2 linked regions of the Homo sapiens genome follow. The protein of the gene in region 1 interacts with the protein of each later gene in a pairwise test. Each region holds a gene or a part of one and is shown on either strand. Other genes may lie near its edges. The genes, in order: SYMPK and CPSF2.

Region 1 (3,758 bases):
TGTGCCCATATGCCCAACACAGCCCTTAGCCTGGCACCCCCCATCTTCCCAGCACCAGCGCAAGCCCTGTATCCTTGTCAGGACTGGGTGGGCAGTCCCTTGGCCCTCTGACAAGCTGGTCTGTGGACTGCTGTTCTCTCTGGAGGGGCTGGTAGAAACCAATAGCTGCCTTCCCTCCCTAGCAGGGGTGGGGGGCCCTGCCACTCCCCCAGGGCTTGGCAACACATCTTTCCCAAGGTCGTCCTTAAAGTGAGGGGCCACGGGTTCCCTGTTCCACCCATTTTGGGGCTTCCTGGAGTTGGATGTCTTCTCCCTTGAACCAAGCCTGCAGGTTTTCCAAGGGCGGGGCTTGCAGTGTGCCTTCTGCTGGGTCGGGGGAGTCTCCTCTCTCCCGCAGGGGCTTTAGAAGTCAGGGCTTTAGAAGTCTTCCCCTCACATGGGCAGACAGCAGAGGCCGGGACTCCCACCTCCCAGGGGGCAGCTGGGCAGAGAGGACAGGCCCACTCTCCGCCTCCTCGCAGCCACCAACCTGTGCTTTGCGGAGCGGAACGTGTACACGTCAGAGGTGCTGGCCGTGGTGATGCAGCAGCTGATGGAGCAGAGCCCCCTGCCCATGCTGCTCATGAGGACCGTCATCCAGTCCCTGACCATGTACCCCCGCCTGGGGGGCTTCGTCATGAACATCCTGTCCCGCCTCATCATGAAGCAGGTAACCCATCCCCGGCCACCCCGCCTCCAGGCTGCAGACAGCAGCTTCTAGCCTGCTTGCCCTCCCCTTCCCCCGTCTGACCCCGGAGGGAGCCCGGTGGAGGACAGCAGGCTCTGCTCTGCCTCCTGCCAAGAAAATAGCAGTGCTCCAGGGTGTATGACTGGGCCAGCTCCCAGGTGATGAGGGAGGGCAGCTGGGTGGTAGGAGCTGTGGTAACCCTCAAGGGGTGTGCACCCGGGAGAGGCATGGCTGCTCCTCACCCTCCACCGCTGTGTGCCCGGCCAGGATGCATCCCAGAGCTGAAAAATGGCCCAGTTTTTTAAGAGGTGCTAGAAATTTGGGCTTTAGAAATACCACGATAAGGCCAGGTGTGATGGTTCACACCTGTAATGCCAACTCTTTGGGAGGCCGAGACAGGAGGACTGCTTGAGCCCAGGAGTTTGGGGCTGCAGTGAGGAAGAAACGCGCCACTCACTGCACTCTAGCCTGGGCGGCAGAGTAAGACCATCTCTCAAAAAAAAAAAAAAAAAAAAAAAAAAAAGAGAACAAAAAAACCAAACCCCGCAGGACTAATGTCGCCCCCTGGAGGCTGCGGTGAGAATGTACATGTGACCCAGGACAGGTCCCGGCACCGGCACGGACCTCCGCTGTTTAGCAGGGGTAATTTCGCCCCCTGGAGGCTGCCGTGAGAATGTCATGAGAGGTGCTCCCGCAGCACTTAGCCTGGGCCTGGCCCAGGGGGAGCTCTGGTAAAAGGCGGCTGAGTTTTCTTCCACCCCCTTCCCAAGTTGCCCTCGTGGTCCAGCCGCCTGGATCGGGAAGACAAAGGCCTCTGGAGGGAGGTCGGGGCTGCTTGTTGCCCATCCAGAGGAATCTTGGATGGTGGGATTTGGGCATGGTCTTGGCAAGGTCTTTCTCCCAGTGTCAAGGCTCGGGGGGATGCCTGTGTGCCTCTCCCGACGGCTCCCTCCCTCCCTGGTTCAGGTGTGGAAGTACCCCAAGGTGTGGGAGGGCTTCATCAAGTGCTGCCAGCGCACAAAGCCCCAGAGCTTCCAGGTCATCCTGCAGCTGCCGCCCCAGCAGCTGGGAGCCGTCTTTGACAAGTGCCCAGAGCTCCGGGAGCCCCTGCTGGCCCATGTCCGCTCCTTCACCCCCCACCAGGTACCCCTTCCCCCCACCAGGTACCCTTTCCCCCCACCCAGGGTGTGCGGTGGGCGGCCCCCTGGGTCCCTCTGGTTGGTGGGGACTGGATGGAGGCGGACACAAGAAGGCCCTGCACTGCTGGGAGTTCTGGAGGGTTAGGGCCCCCGGACCTGAGGTGTGCAAATGGGGTCTCTGTGCCAGAGCTGCCCCCAGCGCCCCCTTCCTGCTCTCCACCCAGCAAGCTCACATCCCTAACTCCATCATGACCATCTTGGAGGCCAGCGGCAAGCAGGAGCCAGAGGCCAAGGAGGCGCCTGCGGGGCCCTTGGAGGAGGTGAGGGCCCTGCAGCCCACCCATCTGGATCCCCAGACTCCCACCCCCTACCCCAAGCCAGCAAGGCTCACCATGGCCTCCTCCTGACCCCGAGAGACTCAGGCCACCCCTGCCTCTGGGCCACCCGTCTCCCAGGGGATGCTCCTGCTGGGAGTTGGGGGTCTGGGGGACAACTGCCCCTTCCTCCCCATGCTCTTGGTGAAGAACTCAAAGACCACCTCAGGGTGGTTCCTTCTCTTTCCGGCCGTCCTCTGAGCCACCCACCTCTGAGCTTCTGTGTGGCCCTCCCTATCCCCAGGATGATCTGGAGCCCCTGACCTTGGCCCCGGCCCCAGCACCCCGGCCCCCTCAGGACCTCATCGGCCTGCGACTGGCCCAGGAGAAGGCCTTAAAGCGGCAGCTGGAGGAGGAACAGAAGCTGAAGCCGGGAGGAGTGGGAGCCCCCTCCTCTTCCTCCCCCTCTCCCTCTCCGTCGGCCCGGCCAGGCCCGCCCCCGTCTGAGGAAGCCATGGATTTCCGGGAGGAGGGGCCTGAGTGCGAGACCCCGGGCATCTTCATCAGCATGGATGACGACTCGGGGCTGACCGAGGCCGCGCTGTTGGACTCTAGTCTCGAGGGCCCCCTACCCAAGGTAGGGAGAGCAGCCTCCGCTGCGAAGGAAGAAGCCGGATCTGGGCCGGGGTGAAGGTGGGGGAGGAGGGGCCATCAGGGGGCAGGGCCTGAAGGGGAGCGTGGAGGTGACCGCGCCCTCCACCCGGCTGCCCTTTCCTTCCCCGGTCACCAGGAGACGGCAGCGGGCGGGCTGACCTTGAAGGAGGAGCGGAGCCCCCAGACCCTCGCACCTGTTGGAGAAGATGCTATGAAGACTCCCAGCCCGGCTGCCGAGGACGCCAGGGAACCCGAGGCCAAGGGGAACAGCTGACGGGGCTCGAGGGGGAAAGGGGGTGGGACAGGGACTCGGGGCTGGGGGACGGGGCGGGGCTTGACCTGCGGGTGCTTTGCCTTAAAAAGAAATAAAAGATGTGAACTTGGGCAAGTTACTGAAAAGAAAAAAAAAAAGGGATGGCGGGCCTGGGGCGCGGGTGCCGTCTCGAGTCTGGCGCGACGTCCACCGTGGGGCTGCGCGGGATCGGGAGTGCGCGCCCAGAGCCTGCGCGGAACCCACCCTGGCCCGCTCCCCGCGCCCTCCACGGGTAACGGCCCCCTCTCTCGGTGCTCAGAAACCGGCGGTGTCGACAGGTGGCTCTCGCTTGGCCTCCTTGTCTGCAAGCCTTTCTCCTAGAGATCTGTGCCTCCTGGCGAACCATGGGAGACCTGCCGCCCTACCCTGAGCGCCCTGCCCAGCAGCCTCCGGGCCGGAGGACTTCTCAGGCCTCCCAGAGGCGGCACAGTCGGGACCAAGCTCAGGCCCTGGCAGCGGACCCCGAGGAGAGGCAGCAGATACCTCCAGACGCCCAGCGAAACGCCCCTGGTTGGTCACAGAGGGGCAGCCTGTCCCAACAGGAGAACTTGCTGATGCCCCAGGTCTTCCAGGCTGAGGAAGCCCGGCTGGGTGGCATGGAGTACCCATCT
Region 2 (5,677 bases), on another chromosome or scaffold:
CATTTTCATGTGAGTTTAGATTCTGCTTATCGATTTCTTTTTTTTCTTTTTTTTTTTTTTTGAGATAGCATCTTGCTTTGTCACCCAGGCTGGAGTGCTATGGCTCAATCTCAGCTCACTGCAACCTCCGCCTCCTGGGTTCGAGAGATTCTCCTGCCTCAGCCTCCAGAGTAGTTAGGACTACAGGCGCGTGCCACCATGCCAGGCTAATTTTTGTATTTTTAATAGAGATGAGGTTTCATCATGCTGACCAGGCTGGTCTCGAACTCCTGACATCAAGTAACCCGGCTGCCTCAGCCTCCCAAAGTGCTGGGATTACAGTCGTGAGCCACCATACTCAGCCTAAGATTCAGCTTACCAATTTCTGCAAAAAAGCCCACTCATTTTTAATAGGAGGTAAAAAGCAGTTGACATTTATAACTTAGAGTCTTTTAATGTTAGTGCTGAAAGGGACTAGAGAGCTCATCTAATTCAACCCACTTATTTTAGTATTGAATGAATGACCCTGTACAAGGAAAGGGATTTGCTTGAGATCCACACAGCTGTTTAAAGGCAGAGTTGGGATTGGAACCAAGTCTTAGAGAATCCATTGTTGCTTCTACACTGCATTATTGCTTTGGTTCCCTAGTGTACATTCACTTTGCTTAGGAGTGATATGTTCAGTTTATCTTCTCTAAGAATGGCAGCTGTTATTTAGGACAGTGGCATGCTGAGAAATAGATTGATTTCTATTCTATACTGTGTCCAGTAAAGGTCGGGGGAGAAAGAGTAAATCTTATCTTCTTCTGTACTTTTCTTTGATTAATGTAAGAGTCTAGAGTTTTATCAGAAGATTATTGTCCTTTAAAATATTGATGGACTGATTATCACTTAAAGGGTATAAACAGTGGGTAGTAATTCAGTGATTGAGAGGTTAATTGCAGGTTTTTTTTTTTTTTTTTTCTGGTAACCATAGAATGAATGTAGAATGAATTTGGATTCAATAATGGGAACTAAGGTCAGGCGTGGTGGCTCACACCTGTAATCCCAGCACTTTGGGAGGCCGAGGCGGGTGGATCATCTGAGGTCAGGAGTTCCAGACCAGCCTGGCCAACATGGTGAAACCTCATCTCTACTAAAATTACGAAAAATTAGTCAGGTGTGGTGACGGGTGCCTATAATCCCAGCTACTTGGGAGGCTGAGGCAGTAGAATCGCTTGAACCCGGGATGCGGAAGTTGCAGTGAGCCAAGATCACGCCACTGTACTCCATCTTGGGCGACAGAGCGCAACTCTGTCTCCAAAAAAAAAAAAAAAAAAGGGCAGGGGGAGCGGCTAGAGAAGGAACATTCAAATCTTCCCACGTGGGCAAGTTCCAAGCAAATGTTTATTTTTTTACCTCCTCTTTGGTTTTTGTCTCACTTGAAGCACTTTGTGTTTATGGGAAAATACCAAAAATTACCAAAATTTAAAAACCCAGGGCTTTGCTGGAAGTGAGGGTATCTTCTTGGCTTTTCCCTTTTCCTCCCCACCACTATACGCACATGCACACACAGCTCTATTTTTTGGTGCTTTTCGTTCATTATTCACTCCATTTCATTTTAGCTCTTGAAGTCAAAATGGGATTCCAAAGAGCAAAATAGAAGTTTGGAGAGTTTGAAATCTCTCCTCGTGGCTGGACGCCGTGGCTCACACCTGTGATCCCAGCACTTTGGGAGGCCAAGGCAGGCATACTGCTTGAACTCAGGAGTTCAAGACCAGCCTGGGGAACATGGTAAAACCCTGTCTCTACAAAAAATAGAAAAATTAGCTGGGCATGGTGGCTGTAGTCCCAGCTATTTGGGAGGCTGAGGTGGGAGGATCACTTGAGCCTGGGGAGGTTGAGACTGCACTGAGTCTTGAATGAATGAATCCATCTCTCTTTCTCTCTCCATATAGTCAAAGAGAACCAAAAATGTATGTGCTTTTTTTGTGAAATTGTTAAGGATTCCATGATCCTACTAAAATTTTTGATAATGATAATTTCAAGTGGAGAATATATAAAGGACTCGTGAGGCCTTCCTACCTCATTTTCTGAGGTTATGTTGACTTTAATATCCAATGTATCATAGGTGTTTTCTTTTTTCTCTGACAATTGTTATGTTAAAAACAAAAAGAAGCACATACTGTACAGTCAAAACTATCAGACGTAACTCTGTGGGAAACTTTATTCCAAGGGTGCTGCCACTGCCCTTGTTTTAAATATTTTTGGAACTTCATTTCTCTTCAGGTCTATTTAATAAGCTTGTTAGGAATATTGTAAATTATTTTAGAAACACATTGTGGTCTCAGCCTCATGTGGCATTGCCACTTGTTACTACATGACCCCCCCACACCCCCTAAAAAAGAAAAAGGACTTTAAAAACCCTCTCAGGACAAACATTTGCTACCGTGGTTGATTTTTTAATTTTACATTAACTATTTAATATCAGACTATAACTAAAATACAAGTAGTGGAATTATACTTTTATAAAGTATCAAATTATGTAGATGATGACGAAGTTATAAGGTTACTATAATTTCCAACTTCACCCATAGGTCATGGTATAGTTGAAATTTCATATTTAAATATCAAAACATAAATGTCTAAAGAGATTGTGTAAATTCTTTATCAGTTATAAGGAAAAACCAAATTCAAATTCTTAAGGTTTTTCTTATATGTGATTTTTTTTTTTTTTTTTTTTTTGAGACAAACTTGCAGGGAGAGAATTATGTGGCATGAGGAGGATTGAGAATGTTGTTCATTTTATCTAATTACTGCCTATTAAGAAAAGCTTCACATTTATTTCAGCTATTCTATTGAATACTTTTACCTAAGATAATGAAACCGTTAAGTAGAGATTTTTCTAATAGTATAAAAATCAGTGTAGGCCCAGCACAGTGGTTCACACCTGTAATCCCAGCACCTTGGGAGGCTAAAGGCAGGAGGATTGCTTGAGCTCAGGAGTTTGAGACCAACCTGGGCAACATAGTGAGAACTCATCTCTATTAAAAATCAGAAAAATTGGCCAGGTGTGGTGGCTCATGCCTGTAGTCCCAGTTACTCAGGAGGCTGAGGCAGGAGGATCCCTTGAGATTGAGGCTTCAGTGAGCTAATGATCGCGCCACTGCACTCCAGCCTGGGTGACAGAGTGAGACCCTGTCTCAAAAACAACAAAAATCTCAGTGTGACAAATTCCTAACAGCTCAAATACTACTTGTCTTATTTGTTAACTATTTTGAAATAATTTTAAACTTACAGAAAAGTAGAATAGTTCAAAAGATCCTGTATATCCTTCCCCTAGATTCTTCTATTGTTAACATCTTGCCATATTTTCCATACCACTCTCTAGCTATGTATTCACATTATTTTTTGAACTGTTTGTTACTAAGTTGCAATTGTGATGTCCCATTAGTACTAAATACTTAAGTGTATACTTTTTAAAAACAAGGACACTCCTACATAACCACAGTACTTAAAATCAGGAAACCAGCATTGATAAAATTCTACCATTTGATCCACGAACCCCATTCAAATGTTGCCATTTACTCCAAAAATATCCTTACAATAACCCTTTCCTTTTTTGGTCCACAGTCCAATCAGGATGAAGCACGCATTTAGTTACATTTTCCCTTTAGTCTTCCTCAATCTGGAGCGGTTCCTTGGTTTTTCCTTTTTTGTGACCTTGACATTTTTGAAGAATGCAGGCCAGGTACTTTGTAGAATGATGTGCACTTTGGGTTTGTCTGATATTTCCTCAAGATTAGATTCAGGTTGTGAATTTTTGGCAGGAATACCAGAGAGGTGATGCTGTCTTCTTCTCTGCATTGTATCAGGAGGCACATCATGTCAATTTTTTCCATTACTGGTGATGTTAATTTTTAACAGTTGGTTACGATGTTTTCAAGATTTCTCCACTGTTAGTATTTTCTCCACTTGTATTTGTTTTTTGGTATAAACTTAAAAAGTACAGCATGATGTTTTGGTATATGTATCCATAGTGAAATGATTATTACAGGTATTAATTAATGAGGAATTACGTATTTTGTGGGTAGCTATTTTGAGACTCTCAATATCCTATTTCTCAAAATTTTACCCTTTACTTTTAGCATCCATTGATGATCCTTGTCTGGATCAGTTATTGCCAAATGGTAGTTTTCTTTTCTTTTCTTTTCTTTTGAGACAGTGTCTTGCTCTGTTGCCCAGGCTACAGTGCAGTGATGAGATCATAGCCCACTGCAGCCTCAAACTCCTGGGCTCATGCCATTTTCCCCTCAGCTTTTGGAGTTAGCTGGGACTACAGGCATGCATCACCACACCCAGATTATTTTTAAAGTTTTTGTAGAAACGGGGTCTCTTCTTCCCCATTTATTCAATATTTATATCAGTATAGAACATGGGTCCCTGTTTTATCATCTGTAAGTTATGATTTATTTTGATGCCCCCATTGTCCAAGATTTGACTAGCGAGAGCACTTTCCAGCTAGCTCCTGTGTCCTTTGGACATACCCCATGGTTCATTGAGCACTTCCTTGCTTTCTGGCACCACAAGATGTTCCAGGCTCGTCTTCTATTTTCCCTACCCCGCTCCTGACATCAGCCATTTCTCCAAAGAGTCCTGGTTCATATTAGTGGAGAATGGTATTTAAAACCAAGATCCGGATGCTAAAGGCTGTGCTCATTGCCCCTGTGCTAGCATTGCCACTGTGCGTTCTCCCAGTGGACAAATTTGGAAATATATGCGTCTATGCTTGTTACCTCATCCATCCATATATATATTAAAAACAAGTACACACTGATACCTATTTCACATCTACTCCACAGAGTTTATTCTAGTCTTCTCCCTTTCCACAATTGTATCTTCTCCACCCTATATTTAAAAACTGGACTTCCAGAGTCTCCAATACATTGGCTTATTTGTTCATTTTCCCTGTGATTAACCAACCTCCTGACCACGTGGCTGGCTCCTTTGCTCCATCTCTGCCCCTCACCCCCTACCGTACATCACTGCTGTGAGGACCAAGTTTCCTCCCTTTCCTCGATCCATGACAGCACCTGCCAGTTGAACCCCACAGTGGGAATTTTAAAGAAGGCACTTTTGGCTCAGATGGCAGTGCCAAAGCAGGCATTCCAATTCACATGGTGCTCTAGCAATTGTGAAATAAACAGATTCTGAAGGTCTGTCCTGGACTGTGTATAGTCTTTGGGTTTTTGTCTTGCTTATTTTGTTAAAATGTTTTCCTGATGACTTTCTATTCTATAGTAAAGCCTTATACATAATGTTCAAGCAGGCGTCAGACAAAATAATGATCATTGTGGAGAGGAGTTAGGAAGGAAAAGATGAAAAGGAAGAAGGCGTAAACCCAATATTGAGAGGAGAAATGGGTACGGCAGGAGTAGCCGTCTGAATCCGAAATGCTGTCTGAGCCAGGACACATTCACAGTTAGAGATCTTAAGTAATGTGTTAATATTATTTTATAACTGTCCTTGCAAAAACAAAACAAAACTGCCTGTCAGTTCATTTGGATCATCCACCCACTTAAGTTTTAGGAGTGTCAGGACCAAGTTAGCTGTATTGAGTGCTGAGGTGTTCTTTTATTAAACAGTCAGCTATTCAATCTTAATAATTTGTAGTGGGAGGAATAATATGCCCCTGGACAAATAATTCCTTGGAAAGCTC

Evidence for each region.
Region 2: the proteins of SYMPK (region 1) and CPSF2 interact in binary tests that used the Homo sapiens proteins (3 or more experiments, as listed by UniProt).

The regions. Positions count from the first base shown.
Region 1 is NC_000019.10:45,814,910-45,818,667, reverse strand, and holds the end of SYMPK (symplekin), read left to right. Parts: intron 1-521; coding exon 522-709; intron 710-1,693; coding exon 1,694-1,870; intron 1,871-2,053; coding exon of another isoform or gene 2,054-2,090; coding exon 2,091-2,186; intron 2,187-2,484; coding exon 2,485-2,817; intron 2,818-2,970; coding exon 2,971-3,108; 3' UTR 3,109-3,258; downstream 3,259-3,758. Other genes in the region: RSPH6A (radial spoke head protein 6 homolog A), read left to right, coding at 3,492-3,758. UniProt on the Homo sapiens protein: Scaffold protein that functions as a component of a multimolecular complex involved in histone mRNA 3'-end processing. Specific component of the tight junction (TJ) plaque, but might not be an exclusively junctional component. May have a house-keeping rule.
Region 2 is NC_000014.9:92,166,969-92,172,645, forward strand, and holds the end of CPSF2 (cleavage and polyadenylation specificity factor subunit 2), read left to right. Parts: 3' UTR 1-5,177; downstream 5,178-5,677. UniProt on the Homo sapiens protein: Component of the cleavage and polyadenylation specificity factor (CPSF) complex that play a key role in pre-mRNA 3'-end formation, recognizing the AAUAAA signal sequence and interacting with poly(A) polymerase and other factors to bring about cleavage and poly(A) addition.